Homo sapiens: one gene and its partners. The protein of the gene in region 2 interacts with the protein of the main gene of each other region in a pairwise test. Each region holds a gene or a part of one and is shown on either strand. Other genes may lie near its edges. The genes, in order: SPATC1L, GOLGA6A, SYT17 and NEBL.

Region 1 (6,825 bases), on a different chromosome or scaffold from region 2:
ATTTAAATTTCATTTATTTCTTCTCTGATCTTAATTATTTTTCTTCTAATTTTGGATTTGGTTTGCTCTTGCATTTCTAGCTCTGTAAGATGAATCATTAGCTTATTTGAAGTTTTTCTACTTTTTTGATATAGGCACTCATAACTATAAACTCTTAGCACTTACAGCTATAGCTCTTAGTATGGCTTTTGCTGAATCTAGTACATAGTAGGTTTTGGTGTGTTGTGTTTCCATTATCATTTGTTTCAAGACATTTTTAAAATTTCCTTCTTAATTTCTTCACTGATGCACTGGCCATCCAGGAGCGTATTGTTTAATTTCTATGTGTTGGTATAATTTCCAAAATTCCTTTTGTTATTGATTTCATTTTATTCCATTATGGTCGGAGAAGATACTTGATATAATTTCAATTTTTTTGATTTTTAAAGACTTGTTTTGCAGCCTAGCATATGGTCTATCCTTGAGAATGATCCATGTGCTAATGAGAAGCAGGTGTATTCTGCACCTGTTGGATGAAATGTTCTGTAAATATCTATCATGTTCATTTGGTCTATAGTATAGATTAAGTCTGATATTTCTTTGATTTTCTGTCTTAAAGATCTGTCCAAGGGTGAAAATGCGTATTGAAGTCTCCAGTTACTATTGTACTGGGGTCTGTCTCTCGATTTAGCTCTAGTAATATTTGCTTTACATATCTGGGTGCTCCAGTGTTGGGTGCATATATATTTATAACTGTTATATCCTCTTGCTGAATTGACCCCTTTATCATTATATAATGACCTTCTTTGTCTCTTGTTATAGTTTTTGTCTTGAAATCCACTTTGATATAACTATGGCTGCTACTGCTCTTTTTTGGTTCTCATTTGCATGGAATATCCTTTTCTATCCCTTTATTTTCAGTCTGTGTGAGTCTTTATAGGCGACGTGTGTTTCTTGTAGGCAGCAGATGGTTGGGTCTTGTTTTTTTTTTATCCATTCAGCCACTCCGTCTTTTGATTGGAGAGTTTAGTCTATTTACATTCAAAGTTTCTTGGTTGTTTTTGACCAAACTCACATACTATCATTCATCGATTTGACTGTGCTGTAATTTTTTTTTTTGGAGACAGGGTCTCACTTTGATGCCCAGGCTGGAGTGCAGTGGTGCAATCTTGGCTCACTGCAACCTCCGCCTCCTGGGTTCAAGTGATTCTCATGCCTCAGCCACCCGAGTAGCTGGGATTATAGGTGCGTGCCACCACGCCCAGCTAATCTTTGTATTTTTAGTAGAGATGGGGTTTTGCCACATTGACCAGGCTGGTCTCAAACTCCTGACCTCAAGTGATCCGCCCACCTCAGCCTCCCAAAGTACTGGGATTACAGGCATGAGCTACTGCACCTGCCTATTTACATTCAAAGTTATTATTGATAAAGATTTACTCCTGCCATTTTGTTATTTGTTTTCTCATTGTTTTGTGGTCTTCCCTCCTCTTTATCTAGAAGAGTTTGTGTTGAATTGGTGTTATTTATTCCTTAAGTGGTAGAATTCACCGCTGAAACTACCCGAGCCTTGAATGGTCTCTGTGGGAACATTTTCCCCCTACAAATTCCATTTTATTGATAATGTCAACTGAAATTAAGGCTGTTGAGACAAATAATTCGATAAAGGTTTATTGGAAGCCAAATGTGAGGATCAACCCAGAGGAACACACCAACAAAGTTGAGAGTGTTCTGGAATCTAAGTCAGAAGGTTTCTATAGGAGAGGCTAGGAGGAGGGAAAGGACTCCTCATACTCATGTCTAAGTCAGAAGGCTTCTATAGGAGAGGCTAGGAGGAGGGAAAGGACTCCTCATACTCATGTTGTCCTTTTCTAGTCAGAAGGTTTCTATAGGAGAGGCTAAGAGGAGGGAAAGGACTCATACTCATATCTAAGTCAGAAGGCTTCTACAGGAGAGGCTAGGAGGAGAGAAAGGACTCCTCATACTCATGTTGTCCTTTTCTTTGGAGGGTACAACACAGAGGTTACAAGCATTGGCTACAGATGACAACATACAGGTCAACACATCTCTGTGCAAGACAGTCAGTAAACCTTTATGATTCAGGAATAAATCAGCATCTTTTCAGTCCATTAATCAGCACATCAGCAATCTGAGGAAATCATGATAAGATTCTTTACTCAGGGACCATTAATCATAAGACCTTCCCAAGCAGGCCAGTTTGGAAGTCTGTTTACTTTTAAACTGTCAAATGTGACCTGTAAGGTTATCAGATATAAGGCTATTCAGAGTATCTATTTCTTCTTGAGTGAACTTTGGTAGTTTGTGTCTTTTAAGGAATTGGTCAATTTCATCTAGGTTGTCAAATTTATTGGCATAAAGTCATTCCTAATACTTCCTTATTATCCTTTTTATGTCTGTAGAATCTGTGGTAGTGGCATCTCTAATTTCTGCTAGTGGTAATTTTTGTCTTCTTTCTTTTTTCCCCTAAGTCTGGCTAGAGGTTTATCAATGTATGGCCTTTTTCCTTTGAAGAACAGGTTTTTGGCTGGATCTTACAGAGCCCAGGTTGGACTAGAAATCATTTCTAGAACCTATACTAGAATCATTTCTCTTCTATAGGATGTTTCTTCTACCTCATTTTTGCCTTGGTGGGGGGATGGGAGAAAGAGCTTGATTCTTTTTTTTTTTTTTTTTCTTGAGATGGAGTCTCGCTCTGTCGCCCAGGCTGGAGTGCAGTGGTGCGATCTCGGCTCACTGCAACATCCACCTCCCGGGTTCAAGCCATTCTCCTGCCTCAGCCTCCTCAGTAGCTGGGATTACAGGCACCCGCCACCATGCCTGGCTAATTTTTGTATTTTTAGTAGAGATGGGGTTTCACCATGTTTGCCAAGCTGGTCTCGAACTCCTGACCTTGTGATCCACCCACCTCGGCTTCCCAAAGTGCTGGGATTACAGGCATGAGCCACCGCACCTGGCCAAGAGCTTGATTCTTGATGAGAGAAATACATTGATACAGAAGGAGGAGATTACACCTGCTCTTCCACACCCCTCATTGGCCCTAACACACTTCTGTGCAGTGTGTTGACATACCTCTTCTGCAGTCTTGAAAAGTGATTGGGAAAGAAATACACTGAAAACTACAAACATCACTGAAAGGAATGAAAGAAGACATAAATGACCAGGCACAGTGGCTCACACCTGTAATCCCAACATTTTGGAAGGCTGAGATGGGCAGATCTCTTGAGCCCAGGAGTTCAAGACCAGCCTCAGCAACAGGGCGAAACCCCATCTCTACCAACCCCCCACCACCCAAGTTAGCTGGTCGTGGTGGTGCATGCCTGTAGTTCCAGCTATTCAGGAGGCTGAGGTGGGAGGATCACTCAAGCCCAGAAGGTAGAGGTTGCAGTGAGCTGAGATCGTGCCACTGCACTCCAGCTTGGGTGACAGAGCGAGACCCTTTCTTCAAAAAAACAAACAAACAAACAATAAATAAATAAACAGAAAAACACCTTGTGTTCACAGATTAGAAGACTTTATATTGTTCAAAAATCAATAATTTTGATATGGATTACATTGGATCTGCAGATTCATGCAATCCCAATCAGAATCCTAGTGGCTTCTTTACAGAAATTGACAAGCAGAAACTGAAATTCATATAGAAGTGTAAGGAACCAGAATAAGTAAAACGATCTTGAAAAAGGAGAACATTGAGGGACTCATACTTCCCAGTTTCAAAATTGACTATAAAACTTACAGTTAACAAGACTGTGGTACTGCCATAACGATGGACATACAGATCAATGCAATGGAATGGGAAGGTCAGAAATAAAACTGTACATAGATGGTTTTCAACAAGAGTGCCAAGACAATTCAGGAGGGACTGAATACTGTCTAACGCGTGGTGCTGGAACAAAGAGGTATCCACATGCCAAGGAATGAGGCTGGGCCTTACTCCACACCACATACACAAATTAACTCAAAATGGATCAAAGACCTAAGAGGTCTCAAAGAGCTGAGGCCAGAAAACTTGTAGAAAAGACATAGGGGTAAATCTTCGTGACCTTGGATTTGGCAATGGATTCTTAGAGATCACATCAAAAGCATGAGCAAAAGAGAGAAACAGACAAATTGGACTTCATCAAAAGTAAAACAAAACAAAAAAACAAACTTTTGTGCTTCAAAGGACAGTATCAAAAAAATGAAAAGCCAACCCGGAGAATGGGAGAAAACATTTGTAAATTGTGCGTTTGAAATGGGACTAGTATGCAGAATATTTAAGAACTCTGACAATTCAACAGTAAGAAGACAAACAATCCAATGAAAAATCACTACAGGACCTGAATAGATATTTCTCCAAAGAAGATACAGTATATAAATGGCCAATAAGCACGTGAAAAGATGCTCGAATCACTAGTCGTTAGTGAAATGCAAATGAGATACTGTTTCCCGTCCTCCAGGAAAAAGATGGACAAGGTCATGTGCTGTTACGGACTCGGATGCCATCAGAGGCTGTCCTGGGGAGGGGGGTTCGGAAGCAGGTTTTGTGGGAGCATTGCAGTCTCCTAAGTAATGTTGAGGAAGTAATTAAAGTAGAATGTCCTGGGCCAGGTGCGGTGGCTCACGCCTGTAATCCCAGCACTATGGGAGGCTGAGGTGGGCGGATCACCTGAGGTCAGCAGTTCGAGACCAGCCTGGCCAACAGGGTGAAACCCCAGCTCTACTAAAAATACAAAAACTTGGCTGGGTGTGGTGGCACGCGGCTGTAGTCCCACTACTCTGGAGGCTGAGGCAGGAGAATCGCTTGAGCCGGGGAGGCGGAGGTTGCGGTGAGTGGAGATGGCGCCACTGCACTCCAGCCTGGATGACAGAGTGAGACTCTGTCTAAGAAAAAAAAAAAAGTCCTGCCAACCCAGCGGTCCTTTTCTCAGAGGTAGGAAAGAATGAAGCAGTTTTATTGAATAAACATTAAAGCAGCCTTTGATGCCCAGAGGTTGCCAAGACAGAAGAACTCTCCCCCTTCCTCCCAGCCAAGCCGACCGGCCCTGTTCCACGGGCGTCCTCACTGGAGGGGACCCGTCCCAACTCAGACCTCCAGGGCCGGGTTCCTCTGTCCTCGCAGGGGCCGACGCTGGGGCAGACTCCCGCGTGACAGGGGACCAGTCCCCACCCCCGAGATTAAAAGGTTTACCTCATCGCAAAGGGACAGAAGGGAGCCGAGGACAGGGGGAAGGGAAGGCTGGCTTGCCCTTTGGCACTTTAAGAAGCTCCTTTTCTTTCAGATTCTATTTGCCAGACAGTGGGGGGTGGCGGCAGGTGGGAGGAGGGGGGTGGAGGAGCCGCCCCCCACGTGGCCGAGGGCACCCTCGAGGGCAGTGGATCCTCGCGCTCCCCTGACCTTGTCCCCGGCCTTCCCTCCCCCAGAGATCCAGAGCTTCGCGGGCGCCGAGAAGGACGCGCGCGTGGTGGGCGAGATCGCCTTCCAGCTGGACCGCCGCATCCTGGCCTACGTGTTCCCGGGCGTGACGCGGCTCTACGGCTTCACGGTGGCCAACATCCCCGAGAAGATCGAGCAGGTGCGCCCCGTGGGGAGGGCGCGGCCAGGAGGGTGCGGGGCGCTCGGTCCGTCCCTGTGCGGCCCCCAGATCTTGGCTCCTGGCCGGGCACTGTCCGCAGGAGGGGACCCCGGGGACCCAGGCGGGCGGGGCAGGGATCGGCCCTGGGCCTGGAAGTCCCCGTCCGAGGGCCCCGAGCCCCCCACCCCCATCCATGCGCTGCGCCCGCAGACCTCCACCAAGTCTCTGGACGGCTCCGTGGACGAGAGGAAGCTGCGCGAGCTGACGCAGCGCTACCTGGCCCTGAGCGCGCGCCTGGAGAAGCTGGGCTACAGCCGCGACGTGCACCCGGCGTTCAGCGAGTTCCTCATCAACACCTACGGAATCCTGAAGCAGCGGCCCGACCTGCGCGCCAACCCCCTGCACAGCAGCCCGGCCGCGCTGCGCAAGCTGGTCATCGACGTGGTGCCCCCCAAGTTCCTGGGCGACTCGCTGCTGCTGCTCAACTGCCTGTGCGAGCTCTCCAAGGAGGACGGCAAGCCCCTCTTCGCCTGGTGAGCCGCCCCGCGCCCGCCGCCTTGCCTGCAGTAAACGCGTTTGTTCCAACCCGGGGCCGCGGTGCCTCCTGCGCGTCCCCCCGGAGGGGAAAGGGCCGCGTCCCCCGCGCGCGAGGCCAGAGAAGGCCCCGCTCCCACCGGTGCTGGGCCCCGACCGCAGCCCGCCGCTGCCCGCACCTGCGGAGTGCTTCTCACCCCTCATTAAAATCATCCGTTTGCATGTCTGCCTTTACCTCTGGCTCTTTGAGGGCGTGGAGGGCGCCTCGGCCGCTGCTCCGCCTGCAGGAAGCGCCGCTCGGTGCTCAAGGAGGGAAGCCAGGAAGGAGCCGCAGCCGGCAGGGGCCCCCTCTTCCCCCTCCCCCCTTCCCCTCCCCCGGGCCTCCACGCCCACCCGCTTTCCCGCCCGGGACGGCGAGTCCTGTCCCAGTTTGGGTTTCCCCGAATGCCGAGCTGGGGCAAGGACTTGGTTCTGGCGGATGGTTGCGCACCCCTGCCGGCAAAATGGAAACGCAGCCCCTTGTTCAAAAGCGAAGAATTCGAAAGGGCAACAGCCGCGTTACAGTGAACCCGGACCTTAGGGCTGAGCAGTGGCAACGCAGGCGGGAGAGCGCCGGGGAGCCCCGAGACCGTGGGGGTGCTGGGGGTGGGCGAGCACAGGGGAGCCCCGGAGACCATGGGGGTGCCGGGGGTGGGCGAGCGCCGGGGAGCCCCAGAGACCGTGGGAGTGTTGGGGGTGGGCG
Region 2 (7,027 bases):
CTTATTAGATGGATGTATCAGATGCTTCAAAAGTCCTGATGTGTAGTAGCACAAAAGCTGCTTGTAAAAAGGAAGTTGCAAAATGATAAAAATTTCTGCAGCAGTTCAGGCTCCTGATGACAAAGCTGGTTCTGATAAGTAGTTCTTTTGACATGCACAGCAGGTTTCACTGTAAGTCCTGTGTTCCAGCGGTTTCATTTAGACCACGGGAAGTTGAAAGCAAAGTTTAAATGTTCTCTGCTGACAAAATGTGGTATATATCCATCAATGGACTTCTACTCAGTAATGAAAGGAACAAACTACCAAAACCTGTTATATGTCATGGACCAACCTCAAAAACCTTAGCTAAGTAAAAAGCCAGACATGTGACCACATATTGTATAATTCTGTTGATTTGAAATGTCCAAAAAAGGCAAGTTGATAGAGACAGAAATGGTCTGATTTACCTCAAGAAGTAGGGATTCAAGCTCTTAGGGTACATGTGATACATACATTAGAAGAAATAAGGAAAAGAAAAGAAATTTATATGTAAATAAATGAAAATAATACTTCTCCCTGATTATAAAGAAAATTGCATTCTTTTTGTAATAATTTGGAAGACAAAATATGAAGAAAAGTCTTTAATTTTGCCACTGAAAGCATTCTGGTTTGTTGCTTTTTATATTTTTTTATGCATATGAACATTTTAAAAAGTAGAATCGTAATATATAGTCTTTTGTCACTATGTTTTGGGCATATTTCTATGGCAGTAAATATATCCTTGGCATCATCTTTTTAAAAGCTCGATGTGTATTAAGTTAATCATTGCCACCCCAGAAGTAAATTTTCTTATATATATATTTTAATGGACGCAAGCAAGCATTTTGGGGCTGAAGTCATAGAAGTAGAATTTCTGGAGAAAAATAACATAAAATAGTTTTAAGATTTTTAATAGAAATTTTCAAATTATCCTGCAGAAAAATTGGTTCAGTTTATACTCCCAACAGGGGCAGAGCTCCAGTATCCCGTTTCCATTTGTCCTCTTTGCTGATATTTAAGGAGAAAATCTCATTGTTTTCATTGTATTTCTTTGGTTTCTAGTGCTTTTGAAACTTTTTTTTTTTTTTGAGATGGAGTCTTGCTCTATGGCTCAGGCTGGTGTGCAACAGTGCAATCTCGGATAACTGCAACCTCTGCCTCCTGGGTTCAAGCGATTCTCCTGCCTCAGCTTCCCGAGTAGCTGGGATTACAGGTGCCCACCGCCATGCCTGGCTAATTTTTGTATTTTTTAGTAGAGATGGGATTTCACCATGTTGGTCAGGCCCGTCTCAAACTCTTGACCTCAGGTGATCCACCCACCTCGGCCTCCTAAAGTGCTGGGATTACAGGCGTGAGCCACGGCCCTGGCCTTGAATCATTTTTATGTGCTTATTGGCCATTTTTATTCTTGTGGGAAGTGCCTGTTTCTCCATTGCCTATTTTCTGGCCAAGCTCCCAAGTCACATTTCACTTAATTTTTATCCTGCTGATTGAAAGCATTTTAACATAAACAGGAGCAGGACAGACTGTAATTATCTAGATCTTGCTCTGTCACCCAGGCTGGAGTGCAGTGGCATGATCATAGCTACCACAGCGTCGTACTCCTGAGCTGAAGCAGTTTTCATACATCAGCCTTCCAAGTAGCTAGGACTACAGGTGTGTGCCACCACCCCCAGCTAATTTTTAAGATTTTTTGTAGAGATGTGAATTCACTATGCTGCCCAGGCTGGTCTTGAACTCCTGACTTAAAGTGATCCTCCCACCTTGGCTTGCCAAAGTGTTGGGATTACAGGTGTGAACTACTGCTCCTGGCCGAGGGCTCATTTTGTTTGCTAGTGGTGATATTGGTATCTGTTTATATTTGAGGCTTTGGTGCTAGTGCTGAAGTATTACACTCACCATCCGAGGTTTGCAGGACTTTTGTTTTAATATTGAATAGATGGAACTGTTTACTTCTGCATCTTTGCAGGCATACAAAATGTGCCTACCAGGACTCTGCTTTATATCTATTGAAAGCAAGAAGTAATACAGTAAAACTTTGCCTGGCTAGAGGCTTTGGAAGAATGGAGTATTCTGATTTAATGCTATTGAAGTGTGAAGGTGAAAAGAATGAAAAACTTACATTTCCTGTTGAATGCAACTTGAAAATACAGCCAGTGATTCCACTTTTCTTCTCTAGTAAGTTTGGACATTCTGATCTACTTGGTGTTTTATTATAGAACTGCTAGTGTGCCCGAGACTTACATTGTGAAGACACTTTTTAAAAAACCTGAGAGGGAAGAGGGTGTAAATGGTATTGTGTGAGATCAGGCTGGATGAGAACTGACACTTGTAAACATACTTTTTAGGCTGAATCTCTGATTGCCGTTTGTTTTCTTATTTAACTCATAAAAATAAAACACATTGGATGGAGGGTGGGAGCAGGAAGGAGATTTATGTCTTTTAATTGCATGCCATTGTTTCATATCAAGACAGAACATATGGTATCCCTGGCTTTGGACCTACAGAAGGAAACACATTTTTCTGCCTGCTGTATGCCAGAGGTTCTTGAACACCTGGAGGGATGACTGCAGCACAGATTGCTGAGCCCTACTCCAGAGTTTCTGATTCACCATGTCCAGGGTGGGGCCTGAGAATTTGCACTTATAAAAGGTTCTCAGGTTCTGCTGCTGCTGCTAGTCCAGAGACTACATTTTTGAGAACCACTCTTGTCTACTAACTGTAAATTGTAGAACTCTAGAACAAAGCTTAGTTTGGTGTAGGAAAAGACGCTCACAGGTTATGGAGCAAATCATGAAAGATTCAACCCTTGATCCCAGCCTAGTGTGGAATTCAGGTAACAATCAATACACAGTGACATAACACAATTCTTGGTTTTCATGATTGCAAGTCATAGCCAAGTATCAAGTGAGAAATTCAGTTTCATTTGCAAGGCTTAGAGAGGCCAGGTGATTCTAGAAAAATAGGCCTTGTATTTGCTTTAAACCAGTAAAGAGCTTTGAGTGCTTATTAAATGGAAAGCTTTGTGTTTTTATTTATTTTTGACTATTTTATTTTATTTTTTTGAGATGGAGTCTCAGTCTGTCACCCAGGCTGGAGTGCAGTGGCGTGACCTTGGCTCACTGCAACTTCCGCCTCCCGGGTTCAAGTGATTCTCCTGCCTCAGCCTCCCCAGTAGCTGGGATTACGGGTACCCACCACCACACCTGGCTAGTTTTTGTATTTCGAGTAGAGACAGGGTTTCACCATGTTGGCCAGGCTGGTCTTGAACTCCTGACCTAAGGTGATCCACCCACCTAGGCCTCCCAAAGTGCTGGGATTACAGGTGTGAGCCACCACACCCGGCCCAAAAGCTTTGTGTTTTTAAAGATATTAGACATGTTTCTTGTTTTTTAAAAAATCTTAATAATGTAGGAGAATAAGAGAAATGTTTTTTCCAAAGCCGAGAAATCATTGTGATTATTTTACCTTATTGGGATGTTGGATAATATAGTCCACTTCATTCATTAATCATCAAACATGCTATGGATTTTCCATTTTTATAGGATTTGTGTCTTAACTGGGGTAATACTGGTAATTCTTATACTCCCTCTGAAGATGAAAAATGTAGGCCAAAATCATAGACCATGCATAGAAGCTGGATAATGAAGACAGCTCTGGAGGAACATGTAGACACACACACACTGACACACATATATATAAAGTATAAATACATATTTTTTTAAAGTTTATTTTTAACATTTTAAAGCAAAAACCAGCCCTCCCCTCTCCCGGAGTAGGCAGGCCCCGCCCCTCTCCCCAAGTGGGCAGGGACAGCAGTCGCATGGGCAGCTTTCCTTGTGATGTCACAGGTTCCTCTGGGCACACTGCTGCCTGGCCACGCCTCCTTTCCCTTTCATCTTTCTCATTGACCAATGGGATTGGAGCATTAAGGCCACACCCCTATTCTGCATTCTAGTGTGGCCCTGGTTACGCCTCCTCTGGCTCAGTCACACAGCAGCCTTGTAGGTGACTGGAGGTGTTCGCTGATGTGGCCCCAACCCTACCTCCCTCCCCACCCCATGATGTTAGAAGAATCTCGACAGAATAAATTGGCAGCAGCCAAGAAAAAGGTAAAAAGCCAAGAAAAAGGTCATGGCCCCCCAACCTAGCCAGAGATCCCCTCTGATGACAAGACCACTCCCAGAGTCCATACCACTCCTGAGGCACACCGGGCTGGGCCCCCCTACCCCGGCGCCTCTGGACTCCCCCCACCAACGTCTTGTCAGTCAGCCCCGCCCCTTCAGCAAGCAGCCCAGCCTCTGCCCTCGCCAATCACCCTGCGGTGACTTTGGGCGGATGACTACTGGGGATACCTGCTCCATATTCAGCCCTCACGTCCTGCCACCCCAAGCCCAACCTCCCTGGGTTCTTTGGGCTCACCTCTCCAAGGACCTGGGTCCCCCAGCCCCAACCCCCCAGCATCGCCAGTCATCCCGGGGTGACTTTGGGCTGGTGACTCCTGGGGTTCCCTGAGCAGACTCTGCTCTCCCCTCCTGCTGACCCAAGCCCGACCTCCCTGGGCTCTCTGGACTGGCATCTCCAAGGACCTGGGTCCCAGCCCCACGTCCCCCCTCCCCCATCGTGGATCGGCAACTCAGCCATTGCACTGATGAGGTTTCCCCCACCCCCAGGAGGAGTGGAATGTAGTGATGTCACAGTCCTCCTAGGAACTGTCATTACTGCTGCAAGACCGGCCTTTGATCTTATAACCCAGTCCCCTAAGCATTCTCACCCCATTTCTGGTTCCTCTGGTCACAGCACAAATTTCCAGCTAGAAGGGAAATGGGGACCATGGGACCTAGGAGCAAGAGGTTTCAGGCTGCCTTACTCCCTTCACATAGACATCGACAGTGTGAAAAGCCTACACTTCCCCTGTGAGCTCAAAACGTTGACAGTATCTCTGGGTGGTAATGGGAGAATGGGTTTGGTTTGGTTTTCTCCCAGGCTTCTACTCTCCAGAGAGACTTTAACATTTTTTTCCGAGTTCTCCACCTCATATTCTAATTCTCCACGGTTCTGGGACCAGACTGCCCTTCAGTCAGTGGTCTCTGAAGTGAGATTTGCTCATCTTCTGTGGAATAGGTCTTGGGAAACTGAACTTGACAGCTTGAATCTTCCTCATATCATCTCAACTTAGGGTACATTGAGTGCCACAGGATAAATGTGGGAGATCTTTCTGAAGCATCAGTTTCCCTTGATTCTCTTGAGAGAGAAAAAACATTAATGTACTTAGGGGTGACCCTCACATAGGTTTCTAAGAGTATACCAGACTTCTCTCTGAAATGAGACTTGGGTTGTCCTCTTTCTGATAAATTCCCAGATTTAACAAAAAAGCTGCCTTCTGCCATGAGGACACATTGATATAAAAGTTTGAGAGATACTGGTGCACTTCTTCACACTAACAGGCATTTGAGGATGTATGACTCTAAACCACACAGCGTGTAGTTCATGCCTATGTAATGTTTACTTTTCTACCTCTGCGTCTGGTTTTGGTCCCCGGCAGCTGCTGATTCATGGCAAAACCCCAGAGCTTGGAGTCAGAAGACTGAGTTTAAGTTCCATTATTGCCCCCCCACACTTTTTTTTTTAGCCATAATATCCATCCCTCTCAGTCACTTAAGTGATTGTGACAACACCTTGTACAGTTGTTGGTGGCATTAAATCAGATGGTGTATAAGAGTATTTTGCAAAAACTGTAAGGAGGGTGTGGCTGTAAGGGCTGGTAGTTCTCATGAGTATTACTGCTCTTCTTTCCCACAGCTAAAAGAATATCAGCAAAGGAAGAGCCCTGGTATTCCAGCAGGAGCAAAGACAAAAAAGAAAAAAACTGACAGTAGCCCTGAGACAACCACTTCCGGTGGTTGCCACTCACCTGGGGATGTGAGTCTTGGCTGGCCAGGCTCCTGGGGACAGGGGGCCCAAGGGGCAGTAGAGGGTAATTGTTGAGATTGCTGGGTACTGGTTAAGAATTCTGGGTTTGAATCCTGCTTCTTCATCTGCTAGCGATCTGATTTATGGCAAGTTGCTTGAGCTCTTTGGGCCTCTCTTTTCACATCTGTAAAATAGGGGTAGTATTGTTTGACTTCCATTTGTGAAGTTTAAATGAGATTCCTTATTGTTGTTGTTTTCATGTTAACCCCCAGTACGTGGCCTGCTGTAAACACCCAGGATACCCAGGAAATGGTCATTGCTGTTTGATTTTCCTGATCCCCACTCGCAAGGGGAAGCTGGGCTAATGAGTACAGCCACTTGCCATCAGGCTGTCCCTCTAGGAGTCACTGAAGGGGGCCCAGGGTGTGGTGAGGAGAGCCCAAGGCACTAGGAGCAAGAGAAGGTCTAACTTGCCACCAGCTTGCTGGGTGACCACAGAAAAATCACTTCTTCTGCTGGGCCTCAGTTTCCTCCTCTGTAAGATGATACTGGATAAGATCAGTGTCTTTCAAACTTGTTTTTTAGCTGAAGTCCCCTTAGTTCAAGTGAACTCTTACTCAGGAGTCTGTTTTTTTTTAATGGAGGTGGAGGTCTGGAGCTCTACCAGATTCATCGCCCATGTCCTGGGCCTGAGGAGAGGGGTCCAGTGAGCGTATTAAGATCTGCATTGGTCAGCTGACTCCACTCTGTGACTGCGTCACTCGGGGGACTTTTCCATCTATTTTTTCCTGCCCCTGGCAAGGCAGCAGGTGGCCATTTGGAAGAATGGCACAGGCCATGGTTTTAATCTCCTCTGCTCTTCTTCAGCGTTTCCTTTTCCTGAACCCACATCTTCCTCCTACCCTGACTTTCTTGCTTCTCTCTAAGCCACTTCTGTCTTTCACCCCCTGCCCTTGTTTTTCCCTTGTCACCTCCTGTAGATTCAGGACATTCTGAAGGTGCGGGTGTCCAACCTTAACCACTCCAATGGGGTAGTGCTCCCCCATTGGACAAGTGGAAGGTGAGGCAGTGCCAAGACCCCTCTCTGGCTTGCTGT
Region 3 (7,883 bases), on a different chromosome or scaffold from region 2:
TCCTGCAGCACACCTGCATCTCTCTAGCCTTCCTTGCCTTCCATGACCTCATCACCTCTCACTCTGGTACTGCCATTGGCTCACTGCCATTATCTTGGTTCAGACTCGCATTACTTCTCACCTAGATTGTTGCAACCATCTCCTCACTGGCCTCCCTGCCTCCAGGCTTGTCTGCTCCATGTCCAAAGACAGCCAGGTGGACAGACAGACAGACATGCACACAGCCCTGCCAAAATCTTTCTGATCACAATCCTCTCTGCTTTTCCATGGGGTAACTTAGGAGGCCGCCTGACATGTGGCATCTGCTACCTGTGGAGCCACACCTGGCACCCACCTCTCCCTAGTTCCCATTCTCACCTCTAAGCTAATGCAGAAGCTACCTTCAGGGCTTTCTTACTACTTTCTGTGTCATGAAACCCTGGGCAGTCCATCAAAGCCTATAGAGCCCTCTTGGAATAATGTTTTTAGAATCGTAGAATAGAATACATAGATTGATAATGAAATTATAATGAACACTGATATACAGTTATCAAAATATTTAAACAAATTTAAATATGGTCATGTCTTTGCTTCTTTGTTAACACATTAAATAGACAATTTAGAGGTGGGCCTAATAACTATTTGTAATTTTCAAGCAGTAAAGAACATAAATGAAATTTCAAGTCATTTGCAACAACTGCAAGTGTAATGAGATAGACTACACATGATCTTTGTTGGTGACAAAGTCCTGAGTAAGTGCTAAGCTTGTTTTGGTTGGTTGCCTGCAGTCATAATGGAAGGAAACACTAAATTTCAGAAGGAGGTTGGTGACAATGGTGATGCAACTTTTTTTCTTTCTAAGTTCATGGACCTTCCAAATAAGCCCCACTCCCCATCTTTGGTTCTTTGGGACTCAGCTTAATGTCAGCCCCTCTGGGAAACCTTCTGTGATCCTTCATCACACGAGGTTGGGGCCCCTCACCTGTAACCCCACAGTCCCCTGAGCCTCCCTTTATCACACCACAGGTCACATATAATTCCATGCATTTGTCTACCTCCCTGATTGGGGCCTTCTTCATTGAGATCTGTAAAGGTGCCAGCTTTGCAGGCACAGCCTTGATCTGAGTCCAAGTTACATTGAAAAGCTGGACTTCATGTCCCCGTGAAAGGCAGGAGAGGCTTGCAAAGCAGTGGGATCCTGGAACTCATTGACACTCCCCTGATGAAGGACTTAAACTGATTTCTCGTCCATTCTTTCATCTGACGATGGTGCAGCCATGATGAGTTGAGACTTTATTGCTAACCAGACCTGCATTTTTGTCCTGTCCCTGTCTCTTGTCACCTGTTTACCTTGGGCAACTCACTTTGCTTCTCGTCTCAGGATTTCAGTTTCCTCACCCGTAAACTGGGGACCATGACAGTACCCACCTTGTAAGGCTCCAGTAGGGATGAAACAAAAACAAATGTGAAGGGCTTAACACTCAATCATAATAACCAGTTGTCTGAGAGTTGAAAGTGTCCATGTTAGCTGTTGTTGCAACCCATTTGCTCATTCAACAAGCATTTATCAAACACCTATTTTGCCAGGTGCTTTGCATACATTTAAAGCATTTCATAATACCAGAGGCAGGTTCTATTATCCGCATTTTAAATAACCTCTTCTTTTGCTCGAGAGGTGCTTAGTATTCTTGGACAGTTTCAGGTCATAAGGGATTAAGGTACCAAAAAATTCTGGGGACGGGGTCATCCCCCTCCTCCAAGATCAGGCATTATTAGGCAACATGGTGCAGGGGCTAGGGAAAGGATTCAGGTTTAGGTTTGAATCCCAGCTCCTGGAAGCCACACACACCCTGCAGGGCAGACACATTTGACGGCAATAATTGAACTTAGCTTACCCTGCGAACGACCCTATGGTCTAAGAAGAATGTGTATTCACAGTTCAGAGCTAAGGAATCCGGGAGTGGCCAACCTGGAGATTCACTCCTTATCTATGAAGGATGTCTGGGTCCCCTGCCTATCCCTTGGAATGCAGGCTGTACAGGCAATTGAGGCCCTTGGTTTTGGGTTAAAGAGCCAAAACCCTTGGTTAAAGGGCCAAAAGGAAGTTGCTTAGATAGAAGGTGCTAAGCGAAAATGCTATATAAACTGCATGCTTTTTATATAAACATGTTTTTTATATAAACAATCGAGGCCCTTTGTTTTGGGTTAAAGGGCCAAAAGGAAGTTGCTAGGTGGAGGGTGCTAAGTGAAAATGCTACATAAACTGCATGCTTTTATATAAACAGTAGAGGTTCTCCTGTCCAGCCAGCTGCCACTGGATTGTCCCTGTATGTAAGTTCCCTCAATAAACCCTGTGTCTCGTTCACTGTCTCTAGGTCTCTTTTTTGGCCTCCTGGACATGGTACTATTCCTAAAGGAGTTAACAGTGGCCTGGCATGACACGCCTTGGGCAAATGACTTCATCTCTTTTTTTTTTTTTCGAGATGGGGTCTTACTCTGTCATGTAGGCTAGAGTGCAGTGGTGTGATCTCAGCTCACTATAGCCTCAATCTCCTGGGCTCAAGCGATTCTCCAGCCTCAGTCTCCCAAGTAGCTGGGACTACAGGTGTGAGCCACCAATGCCGGGCTAATTTTTGTATTTTGTAAAGAAACTTTTTGTAGGCTGGTCTTGAACTCCTGGCCTCAAGTGATCCACCCACTTTGGCCTCCCAAAGTGCTGGGATTACAGGCATGAGCCACCATGCCTGGCCAACTTCACCTCTTAATGCCTCTTTTTTTCTCACCTAAAGAGTGGGATAGTACTTGTGCCTACCTCATGGTAATCAGAGAATTAAAAGATCAAAATTTGTGTAAAGGGCTGAAAACAGTGCCTGGTACACAGACCTCAAAAAGGGTTAACTTTTTTTTTTTGAGATGGTATCTCATTCTGTCACCCAGGCTGGAGTGCAGTGGCACGATCTCAGCTCACTGCAACCTCCGCCTCCCAGGTTCAAGTGATTCTCCTAGCCTCAGCCTCCTGAGTAGTTGGGATTACAGGCACCTGCCACCATGCCCGGCTATTTTTTGTATTTTTAGTAGAGACGGAGTTTCGCCATGTTGGCCAGGCTGATCTCGAACTCCTGACCTCAGGTGAAAAAGGGTTAACTATTTTTACTTATGGGAACACCTAGCAAATTCCTCGAACTCCCTCAAGTGCCCCCAAGGAGCACCCGTTCCAATAGGCATCCTCCTCTGTGAGGCTCACTCCCCACCTGGCATGCCTTGCCATCAGTGCTGGAGAAAGATTGTGGATAAATACCACAAAGTGGTTAGGAGTGGCCACTTTGGGTTCACTGCTGGACTTGTGGGTTCAAATGTCAGTGCCCTGGGCTACCAGCTGTCAGGCCTTCATAGAGGCTTTACCTGTCTGGGCTGCAGTCCCTCATAAATTGGAGATAATCATAGCACCTCCCTCAGGAAGCAGAGTGAATAAGGCAACAAAAACAATTACTGAGTGCCTACTCTGGCTGGACAGGTGCTACCTAATAGGAGTGATCAAGGTACTGCAGGTTGAAATGAAATAACGCTTGTGAAGTGTTGAGGCGTGTATGCCTGCAGAATCATAAGCACTCAATATGCGTTACGTGCTATATGCTACAAACTAAATATATCATACTAAAAAATGTATAGGTCTGCTAGATTTTTAGACAAAAAATATATGCATCTGAATATCCATCTTTTGTTACTCCCATATTCATTTTCTCATTTATTCCCACAAATCAGCCCTGGAGGATAGGCAGGGTGGAGATTTTCTCCTGTTTTTACTGAGGAAAAAGAGGCACTGGGAGGTTAAAATTAAAATGCTGATAAGCTGGTGTCCGGCAACAGGAGATGACTGGGCATATTAAAAAGAAAACCGGCCCGGCGCAGTGGCTCACGCCCCTAATCCCAGCACTTTGGGAGGCCGAGGCAGGCAGATCACTTGAGGCCAGGAGTTCGAGACCAGCCTGGCCCACATGGTGAAACCCTTTCTCTACCAAAAATACAAAAATTAGTGGGCGTGGTGGCATGTGCCTGTAGTCCCAGCTACTCGGGAGGCTGAGACACGAGAATCCCTTGAACCTGGGAGGCGGAGGTTTCAGTGAGCCAAGATTACCCCAGTGCACTCCAGCCTGGGTGACAGAGTGACACCCTGTGTCAAAAATAAAATAAAATAAAATAAAATAAAATAAAATAAAATAAAATAAAATAAAATAAAATAAAATAAGAAATCCAGCGGAGGGCAATGTTCCACCTCGAATCTCTGAGTGGAGAGCCAGAGGCCTTGGGCTGGGAGGTTTGATGGAGGCCTCTGGGTCCAGGGCGCCCCAGCCACGAGGACAGGCAGGAGGGCGGCGGTGGACACGCCCCGGGGCGCACGCTCGCTGGCGGCCGCCTGCCCGTGGGCAGAGGAGCGCACGAGGCCGGGCACGACGCTGGGTGGCGCTGCCGGGCCGCCCCGCGCTAGACCTGTTGCGTCCAGGGCGCAACTCCGGCAGGTTTAGGGTAAAGGGGCGCTCCGCTCTCTCCGCGCGCCCCCTGCAGCCCTGGACGCAGCACCTCCGTTTGGGACGCCCTACGCCCACCTTAACTTGAGGCTCCCATCCACGCAGCCTCTGCAAGCCTCACCGCAACCGTGCTAGGCGCGTCGGGTGGGGCGGGAATAAAGTTTTTCCAACCCAGTTTGGGGAGAGGGCTGGATGGGAAGGACCCTCCCTGCTGCAGACTTCATGGCAGGCTGCACTGTGTCCCCTCGGCTCCACGGCTGCCCCGGGGGCGCTGCTTTCGGTAGGTGCCAGCCCCCGTGCCAGCAGGATGGGCTGACCTGTGTACCGCCCCCTCCCACCCCCTTCCCCATTCCCATCCCCTCCCCCGCCTCCTGCGCGCTCCGGCCCCGGCGTCTCCGGCCCCGCCTGCGCTGGGGTCGCTGCAGTCCCCGCAGCTGCCCCGGGCTGCTTGCCCAGGCGCCCCGGCCTTATTCCAGCCTGGGGAGCGCCTCGGTGGGGAGCACGGGACAGCGAGGGAGGCCGAGGCGGGGGCCCTGGGCGCCCGATATCTCCGAACCGGGGAGGCGGCCCCGATTCCGAGAGCCGGAACGCAGGGAAAGGCAAGGACGGGGCGGCCGGCGGAGGGGCGGGCGCCGCTCATCAGCCACGCCAGTCACGTCTGGGGCCACCGGCTGCCTTTTTCTTCCTTTCCCCCTTTGCTTTCTTCCCCCTCCGCTGTTGGCGAGGGCAAAGTGGCCGTGGCGGCGCCATGCCCGGGCCGGAGTGAGTGCGCGCGGGCGAAAATGGCGTACATCCAGGTAGGGCTGAGGCTGGGGGCAAGGTCCGGGGTGCGGGTAGGGGGTGCCGCGCCCCCTCCGGCTGGGAGCGCGCGGAAGGGAGGGCCCACGGCTAGGCTCCCACAAACTTGCTTCGAGAAAAAGGGTGCCCGTGCGCGGGCAACCTGTGCAGCAACAGGGGTGCGCCCCGGGAGGAGAGACTGGGGACCCCCAAACCCCGGGATGGAGGGTCCTATGTGTACTCTGCAACGCGCGCCCTTGCCTCTTGGGGAGGGAATGGGGGGTGGGGCGGACTTTTCTTCTCCCCTGCCCCCTCCCTCTCCTTGGCACCCCACCCCAGGGGAGGGGCCGTGGGGAGGGCGGCCCGGGGCGCGCCAGCCACCCGGCCCGCCAGCTGCCGTTGCCGTGGTGACGGCTCCGGCTAATTGGCCGGCGGAGCGAGCCTGAGGCAGCTGTTCCGACCAGGAGGGACAAGGACGTCGTCTCTCCTGGGCACTGGGTGCTGAGGGGTGGGGGACACCCAGAGGCCAGAGGCGCGCTGGTGAAGAGAAGGGAGCCTGTTACTTTACTCCGCTGCATTGGGGTCTGGGAGATGTGGACCCTCTTCACCTTGAAGAAACGTCCCCCAAGAATCCTTGGGCTGAAATAATTCTGAAATAATTTCTAAGCAGCCTTTTTTGGGGGGAGGGGGCGGAGGGGTGGGCCGGGCTTCTTGGTGAAAAGACCTTTCTCCTCTGCAAGAAGGGAAGTGACCGCAGGTCAGCGCCAAGGTCAAGCAGGCAGACCCGCAGTGAGACCCGTTGAGCTGCTTGCTTCTGGCGCTGGCGCCTCTGAGCTGGGCAGAGAAGCTTACAGACTCCCACGTCCAGGGTGCATCTTGGCTCACATCTTGTCCCCTCAGCCACAGCTGGGGGTGCTGCTGGTCCTCCCATTCCCCTCTGGGTCACATATCCCCTCATCGTGTCCTCAGACGCTTCAGCCTGCCGGGAACTCTGTGCTGTGTCACCTGGCGGAGCCTCTTCCATTCATCTCCTGCCTTAGATTCCCTGAATTGGCTTCCCTTTCGTGGAATCGCCAGTTTCTCTTCAAGTTCAATGAAGGTCACATTACTGTCCACCCACTGTGTGCTGAATGTTGTCCAGGGGCTATTGAGTAGTCGCCCAACAAACACTTGGGCGACCGCCTACTAAGTGCTGGCACTGGGGATACAGTGATGAAAACAGCACAGTTCCTGCCCCTCTGGGTGCGCAATTTAGTGAGAAATGAACATGATTACCGGCTCCTGGAGTTCTTAATGGCCGCCTTCAGCACAGAGAAATTAAGTGACTTGCCCAAGGCCACATAGCTGCTTAGGGGTCAAGGTGGGATCTCAAGAGGGGACTGTGGTAGATATGTTAAGCATCTCATATGGCGATGACCCAGTGATGTTGGTTTTCCTTCTAGAACAAGGTGTTAAACTTTGTTGTCCTGTAAAGTGCCAGATACTATTTTTTTTCTCTTGGAGGCTCACATGGTCTCTGTCACAACTATTCCACTCTGACTATAGCACCAAAACTGCTATGGACAGTAGTAAATGAGTGGGCGTGGCTGTGTTCCAATAAAACTTTATTTGCAGGCACCAAAATTTGAATTTTGTATACTTTGCACGAGTCAAGAGGCATTCATCTTTTTTTTTTTTCAACCTTTTAAAAACTCACAAATTATTCTTAGCTCAAGGGCTGTAGCAAAACAGGCTGCGGGGCTGGTTTTGATCTGCGAGCCTTAGTTTGCCAACCTCTGTTTAGAATGCATGGGTTGTCTTTCTTCCTCTTTCTTTCTGGTGTGAATTGGTTCTCTTCCATCGGTGTCAAACACGTGAGCCCAGGAGACCCAATGCCAGAAAGACTCAGCATGCCTGGGAATGTCAGGGCACCCTCTTTCATCTTCTTTGCTTTCTCTCTGCTCCTTGACACTCATCTTGCACCTGGGCTTTGAGAAAGTTGGGGAGGCTGTTTTTCAGCAGGGCCATGAGGTGACCTTGTCTCTGTTCACTTTGGTTTCATAAATGGCCTCTTTTGACCACCACATGTCTAGGAAATGCTTCCCTGTATTCAGAAAATGGTCATAGATTATTATGAAAAAGTATCACTTTATCCTAACATTCTAAAGCACTTTTTCATGCAAGCCCTATGAGGGTATAATATTTTGCTGTTTTGTGCCCTGCTGTACCTGCCGGGACAATACCCAGTGCCTACTGGGTTCCACTAGGTCTTGACAATCACCTAATTCTCATCACAGAAAGGGTGCATTTTATTTTTCAGCTGGACCGCACGCAAGTATTTGCATAGTCAGTGTCCTGTCCCACCTCAACAGCACGCCTTTGAGGTATAGAGTAGCCTTTCCACTAAAGAAGAGGTAACCGAGGCTCAGAGAGGCCCCCTGTCTTGCCCAAGTCACATGATCAGTCGATGGTGAGACTAGGACTCTAGTACTTCCTGGCTCAGCTTGTTGCGTGGCCCCTCAGCACCTTTGGGTCTTGTTCTGTGTATGGTTTGAGTTTTGGCTTTAGAGAGTTTGTGATAAGTGCCTTTGACTATTTCCCAAGCTGTTGCTATTCCCTTAC
Region 4 (7,025 bases), on a different chromosome or scaffold from region 2:
TTTTCATTTTCTTTTTCGTAGAGATGGAGTCTCACTATGTTGCCCAGGCTGGTCTCAAGCTCTTGGCTTTAAGTGATTCTCCTGCATCGTTCTCCCAGAGTGCTGGGATTACAGGTGTGAGCCACCGGGCTGGCCCTGCTTCGTTTCTGTAGATGAGAGGGATGGTTTCATGGACTTCTCTTCATGGTGCAGCCTAATTGTTACTCTTTGGACTTCTTCCAGCTTTCATATATCCTTAATAACCAATATGTAATAATCAGAACTGTGCAGAGTGGTACAGATGTGGACGGTCTAGATCACGTGTAGAGCAGGATGATGTTTTGCTTAGCTTCTAGCACCCTTTATGATGCTATGAAGAGTTTCTTAGACTTGGGAGCTGCAGAAAGCTGTTAGATCAGCTTGATAATCTGTAGACCATCAGAGCCATTTCATTCCTAATTTCTGACCTGTAGCTGATAGCTTAGGACCCATCATCTTTAAATAATAGTTTGAATTATTTTAACCACACTAGGGCTAGATCTAATCTGTAGTTTTCTGCCCTCTTGCCTGGCCCTTTGAGAACTTCTGAAGTTCATCTCAGTTTGCCGTTTCCCTTACTGAGACAGCTTGGAGTCAGCAGACCTGTAGACACTGCTATATCATCCCCTTGTCAGACAATTTTATAGAAATGTTAAGCAAGATTGGCCTAGAGATCAGCCCTAGGAAGCCTGCACTGCTTAGAATTCTCCATAGAGAGAAATGTCCGTTTTTCAGGTCAAGTGGCTTCACTTTGGGCATCAGTATAAGGCATTTTTCTTTCTTTCTCTTTCTCCCCCCACCTAGTTTCTGCTTTGCACTTGCTCTACCCACATTATGGGGTTCCTCTTTGCACAACTCACTTCCCAGTCTTGAAGAACAGCTGGTCTTCTGAGGCAGCCTCTTTTATTTTTCTGTTAATCACATAATACTATTATTTTCTCAGATATATTTTCACAGATATTCTCTCTGTCATATTTATTCCTGTTAGTCTAACCTAACATTATCTAATCAATCCCTTGAATAAGTTAAACCTATCCTCTCTATTGAGCATTCAGAATCCTGGATCTAGTAGTCTTCTGATGGGGAGTCATAAAAAAGATTGGGCAAAAGGGAATCTTTTGTATGTTTCTTGTAGATTAGGCAGAAAGAGCCTTCTGCAGAGCAGGTGGACCACATCTGCATGCAGCCTCTCAGTGTTTAGTTCAAGGCTGTTTAGGGTGTTCATCTGCATGGCAGCAGGAAGAATATTTTCCAGGCAAATGAACGTTGTTGTGGGTAAATCCTTTCAATGCCAAAAACATTAAATTCTGTGGTTACTCCTCCAGAGAAAGCTTAGATGGTATCAGAAAACCTGGGAGAGTGATCTTAGCTATGTCCAGCCCAGTTAAATAATGATGGAGCCATTGTTTTTCCTTCCAGGGTGTATTGAATTTAACTTGTATGATTTCACTTGTGAAGAGCCTTTCCAGATACTTTCAGTTAAGAATTCTTGTGAAAGGAAAGATCCGCAAACATCTCCATGTCTGTCATCCGATTTCAGCCTTTAGCTAATCTCATACTCATTCAAACAAACTTGGCCAGGAGGAGGAAGCGACCCTGCACTAAATTCATCCTAATTGTAATGGAGACGTGGGATTTGTGGGTGAGGGCAAAAGAGAAGGTCAATGTTTGGGACATCTTAATGATCATAAAGTCATCAATTTTGCCCTTTTTGTCTTTTGGTGTTGGGTTGTGTATTCGGTAGGAGTGCAGATGACTGTAAAAACAGGAAAACTCTAACACAATGGCTTAACAAGTAGGTTTTTGTTTCCCCAGCCTCCACATATAAAGCCCGGAGGTAGGTAGTTCAGGCTGGGTACTATGGGTGTTATCAGTCTCCCAGGCTCCTTTCCTTCTATTCTGTCGTCATTAGTATGGTGGCTTATTCCTTGGTAATGACATCATTGCTGCTGCCTTCCCTTTGATTGAGAAAGAAAAATGTGGAAGACAGAATGTCACAGGGTTGTGCAGCATCTCTCCCTTTGTACCAGAAACACTAGAAGCACTTCTGGGAAGATTTCCACTAAAGTCACAGAGAGTGTGGCTCCCCAGGCCAAACACTGGATGGCATGACCATGCCTGGTTTAGATCAGCTTGTCCTCTGGGGCTGGGCAGGAGCCTGGCTGCTCTCATTAATCCATCTGGGCTCTTTTAATAGGAGATAATGGGAGTGGCCAGTCTATCCAATAGATGGTGTCAACCCGAAATTGTAAGATGTAGACATGGCTGTAATAAAATATAGCAATCTATTCAGTGATTTTTATTTTACCTAAGATTTGTTTCATTGACCAATATAGTTCCCTTTCAATGATCATTTCCTGTTATCTTGGTGTAGGAAGGCTACTAATATGTATCTAATATTTATATAAATATTCCTTATGTATTTAAAAATCTAACATTCTTTGCTTATTGTCATTCATATTGCACAATTCACTTGAAATCACACATGATTGTGTGTGACTTCTAACAAATTGTACAATTTCTCTTGAATTGTACAATTGTAAAGGATCTTAAATTTTAAATACACCTTCATTTAAAATATACAAATATGTGTATCTTTTTAATAAAGACCCAAGAAAAAAAAATAGAGTCTACAATTAAGACTGAGCTATTTGTCTGCCTAACAGAAGAAGTAAATACCTCACCCTTATCCAGTCCTCCTGTCCTGAACGTTCTGCATGTGTCAGACTTTATCAGGAGGCTGTAGCCACAAGCACATACCACTGCAGTGAAGAATGTGAATGTGATGGGGAATAGATGGTGGCAAAAGATAAAAATAATGAGTCAAACTTAAGCCTAATGATAGGCTATTTTCTCTCACACTTAATTATATAACGGAGATACTTTTTTCTCCATATGATCAAAATAGCCTACTATTTATCATACTGCCATTAACAGTTTAATTACTAGTGGCTGAGGAGGGTGATTTGCAGGAACCTAAAATTATGGCTAATCTCTGAGAAGAAAAAAAAGTAATTTAGTGCTCAGATAAGATAAATATGTTCTCGTGTTGATTTCATGAATAAAGCAAATGTTTAATGTGGTAGGCATCTGATATCCAAGAGTCACAGCAGTGAAATATGGGATTTTGAAATAACTTCACTTAATCTGTATCTAGTTCTACCACAGGTTAAGTAATGCCCGTCAAATCAGGCTTGCATATGGGAAAATCTCCATGTACCATTAGTGTATAACATCAATATTATTCACATCCTCTAAGAACCAGGTAGTATATACAATTCAGCTCCACTTTTGGGTTATAATTAGGGAGAACATATAATTTATCATCTGAAACAGGAACACTTTTTCAGTTTAAGTATTTATGGTCTTGGGAGGATAAACACGAGCATATTACAGAGTGATACAACTTTTAGCAAATTACCTGCATCTTCTCAATGAGTCATAGTTTTGCCTTCCCAGTTTCCAGATTGTGCAGCAATTAGTGTGACAGTGTGATTATACTTTAGGTCCTTCTCCACATTTCCTGACTTCTTTTGGGCTCAAATATCCACCCGGGTCTTCCCCCGGCATAACAATTCTGGCCTATCCCCAAAGGGGAAGAGAGTGAGTCATTTGACTTGTGAGTTGCAGAGAAGAGATGAGCAGGTTTAGCTAAGCCTCACTGGGCTTTGTCTTGCTGATCTCCAGCAAGAAGGCCTTCTGGAATGATCTCCACCACATAGCAAGCTTTCTGGGCAGGTTCAGTTCTTCTCTGCGCTCAGGAGGAGGATTGGGAAGCCTATGGGTGCTCATAAATTGGGAGGAATTAGTAACAGGAAGCCCACGTTGGCCACAATTTAAGCCTCTTCCTCTAATCAAGCATGTCTAGGTAATAACGGTAATAGTGATCCCCATTTAATTTCGCCTCTACTTCTTAATTGGTCACATCTGTCATGCTGACTACTTATTTTCTACCTTGAGGTAGGCAGCTGTGTTTCTGTTTGGCCAAAGGCTTATGTGTCAAGGCTTAAAAGCAACAAAACACCAGGACACTTGTAGGAGCGAGATGGCACATGCTTGCTAATTGCACTGGGCTGGCTGGGTAAACAGGACCCATCACCCGTAGCCAGCACGCCTGGTGTTGATGCTTAACTGGACCCTCGCTTATCTAAAGAATGGTCTTTCCTCACTATGCCTCATCATCTTTGCAATCCTGTGCTGGATAGCCGTTTATTTAACTTGGCTTGTTTTGAGGTCCCTTTCACACTTGAGTATTTACTTCAGTAAATGGACTTTATCAACCTAATTATCATTCAAAAAAGGCCATTAGAATTGTTTTTCTTTTTCTCTTCTTATGTAAATCATTCTCTTTTTTAGATCCGTTATAAAGAAGAGTTTAAAAAGTCCAAGGATAAGTGTACATTTGTGACTGACAGTCCTATGCTAAACCATGTAAAAAATATCGGTGCTTTTATTTCTGAGGTAAGGTATCAAAAGCTTGCAAACTGGCTTGCATTTATCTTTTTCTTATTATATAGATGAAAGTCTGTGCATTAAAGAGATGAAGAATAATATTTTCAAAAGCACTACTGAATGTTAGTAATAGCTACATAATTATCTAATGTGATGCGCTGTCATTTAACTCATATAGATTGACAGATTTTACTATGTATGCTTCATACATTTTATTATATATGTCTATATTTTGACTCTAAATCTTTCTTATTTATATACGATTCCTCTTGAAAAGGCATCTTTTTATTAAATAAGTAAAAGCACTGGCACAATAGTTCACTTTAGAAGTTCCATTATTTTGTTTCCTAATAGATATATCAGAGATAAATGATTGAATATCATTTTGGAAATAAATAAGATTTACCAGTTTTCTAAAATGTGATATCTTTGATAAATAATTTTAAATGTATTTAAACTATTTTGGAGTAGGATAAAGTTCAGTTCAACAGTGATACCTATTATAAAATCACAGACTGAGGAATACGCTATATTCATTTTCCAGCTGAAAAATTATGTAGTTTCTTTCTGAGAGCATTTAGAACTACAGTTTATGTTGCATTGTAAAGCACAATGTTAACGATGATGATTTCTGTGGTGAGGCATTACTGTAGTCTGTGAATAGATCACTTAGAAGAGATACGTTTGAAAAGAAACGGAAATGAAATAGTGTTGTAAATGACTGACCTCTAGTGTTTCATAAATTATGTTGGAAAAAGATCAACTGGATGTCCTTGGGATTATTTCTGCTAATGCGAAACAATTTTGAATGAAATCAGTACGTTTTCTTTCATTAAGTACCAAAATCCAAAGAGTGTGGTAGCAGAAGGCTAGCACAGGATCTGTGCTCAATAAATCAATACTGAAATCTAGCTCTGAGCAGGAAGAACATCAGGAACTCATCTGCAGATAATGGAAGAACATAGTTTGTTTGTCTTAGCTATGTTCCATTCTCCCGTGCAGATAAATACTTGATGTTCTCAATTATTGATTATGTTTCCTGAAGGAGTTAATTGCAGAGCAAAATATTGGAAGTGAGCAATCTATTGTGTTCCCTTGAACCTTAGTTTTCCCAAGAGGAAAGAGTGTTTGTCTTTAGAGTAGTGACTGAGATGGCTTAAAGACAGTGCAGGCTAGAGGTGGGTAGGCACATAAACAACAAAAAAGCACTCACTCCCCTCTCCCCCTGGAGCAGGAGGAGGCTGAGAAGACCTGAATAAAAGAACACTGTCCTTTGTCAAGTTCTAGATAGTAGATTCTAACGACTTGCATTTTCTGGAACAACTCGAATTGTTTGCTCACTCATCCAGCATGAAACTGTCAATATACACAAATAGATTTACTTTTAGAAATGTGCTTGCATTTAAATAGAAAGCCATTATGTCCTTGCATGTCTCATTGAAAGCGTTCTCTATGATAAATTGGATTTATTTCTATCTCTTCAGAATCCTGGAGTTTGTCAGCTCTGGTATCTAAAATTAAAATGGTCTGCAGATTTTAAAATCAATTCTGTTTTGGGAGAAAGTTTCTTCTTTTCTACTTATAATCACAGTTTAAAAAAATGGAAGTTTATTTATTTATTTTTTTCCTGTTTTTTTTTCCCCCAGGCAAAATACAAAGGCACCATTAAAGCTGACCTTTCTAATTCTCTTTATAAGCGGATGCCAGCCACAATTGACAGTGTTTTTGCAGGAGAAGTTACACAGCTCCAGAGTGAGGTAGGGTTTTTCTAAAGTGTTTCATGATTTTGTAGATAAAACATATAACTGGAAAAAAGCTACTTAGCGTTTTAATAAAACGTTTTCATCATGGGTGTTAAATACCAAATGAAAGTTGAAAGCAACTGATTAATGTGCTGTCAGTAGTTGCTGTTGAAATTGCAGAAAATGAAAAGGACACGCAGGTTTATGTCAGTCACATGGTACTGTTTTCTGAGTCCCATTCAATGCAATTTATAGAGCAAATCTTAATCTCATTTAGACAGCTTACATGGATGAAATTCTTATAGTAAATATTAAACTGTTCTCTAATTTGATATATGATCCCTAAGTAGAGAATATTTGAATAGCTTGTTAAAAGCCACATAAAGAGATAATGGGGCTGGACACTCTGGCTCAGGCCTGTAATCCCAGTACTTCAGGAGGCCAAGGTGGGCAGAATGCTTGAGCTCAGGAGTTGAAGACAAGCCTGGGCAACATGGCAAAAGCTGGTCTCTACCAAAAATACAAAAATTAGCCGTTTGTTGGCATGCACCTGTGGTGCCAGCTACTCAGGAGGCTGAGGTGGGAGGATTGCTTGAGCCTGGGAAGTTGAGGCTGCAGCGAACCAAGATCATGCCACTGCACTCCAACTAGAGCAACAGAGTGAGCCTCTGTCTCAAAAAAAAAAAAAAAAAAAAAAAAAGGTTGAATTCAGGATCCACAGATCTGCTTCATCAATTAGACAAGTGTTTCCTGAATTTCCTTTTCTGTAGATTGTGTTTTTCCTTTAGGATATCTCAGGCTACCAAAAATAGC

What was found.
Region 1: the proteins of GOLGA6A (region 2) and SPATC1L interact in binary tests that used the Homo sapiens proteins (3 or more experiments, as listed by UniProt).
Region 3: the proteins of GOLGA6A (region 2) and SYT17 interact in binary tests that used the Homo sapiens proteins (3 or more experiments, as listed by UniProt).
Region 4: the proteins of GOLGA6A (region 2) and NEBL interact in binary tests that used the Homo sapiens proteins (3 or more experiments, as listed by UniProt).

The regions. Positions count from the first base shown.
Region 1 is NC_000021.9:46,160,640-46,167,464, reverse strand, and holds the end of SPATC1L (speriolin-like protein), read left to right. Parts: intron 1-4,874; exon of another isoform or gene 4,875-4,956; coding exon of another isoform or gene 4,957-5,158; intron 5,159-5,397; coding exon 5,398-5,549; intron 5,550-5,759; coding exon 5,760-6,086; 3' UTR 6,087-6,305; downstream 6,306-6,825.
Region 2 is NC_000015.10:74,079,529-74,086,555, reverse strand, and holds the start of GOLGA6A (golgin subfamily A member 6A), read left to right. Parts: upstream 1-4,005; 5' UTR 4,006-4,046; coding exon 4,047-4,130; intron 4,131-5,820; coding exon 5,821-5,940; intron 5,941-7,027.
Region 3 is NC_000016.10:19,163,360-19,171,242, forward strand, and holds the start of SYT17 (synaptotagmin-17), read left to right. Parts: upstream 1-4,880; 5' UTR 4,881-5,287; coding exon 5,288-5,302; intron 5,303-7,883. UniProt on the Homo sapiens protein: Plays a role in dendrite formation by melanocytes.
Region 4 is NC_000010.11:20,887,299-20,894,323, reverse strand, and holds part of NEBL (nebulette), read left to right. Parts: intron 1-4,374; coding exon 4,375-4,479; intron 4,480-6,116; coding exon 6,117-6,227; intron 6,228-7,025. UniProt on the Homo sapiens protein: Binds to actin and plays an important role in the assembly of the Z-disk. May functionally link sarcomeric actin to the desmin intermediate filaments in the heart muscle sarcomeres.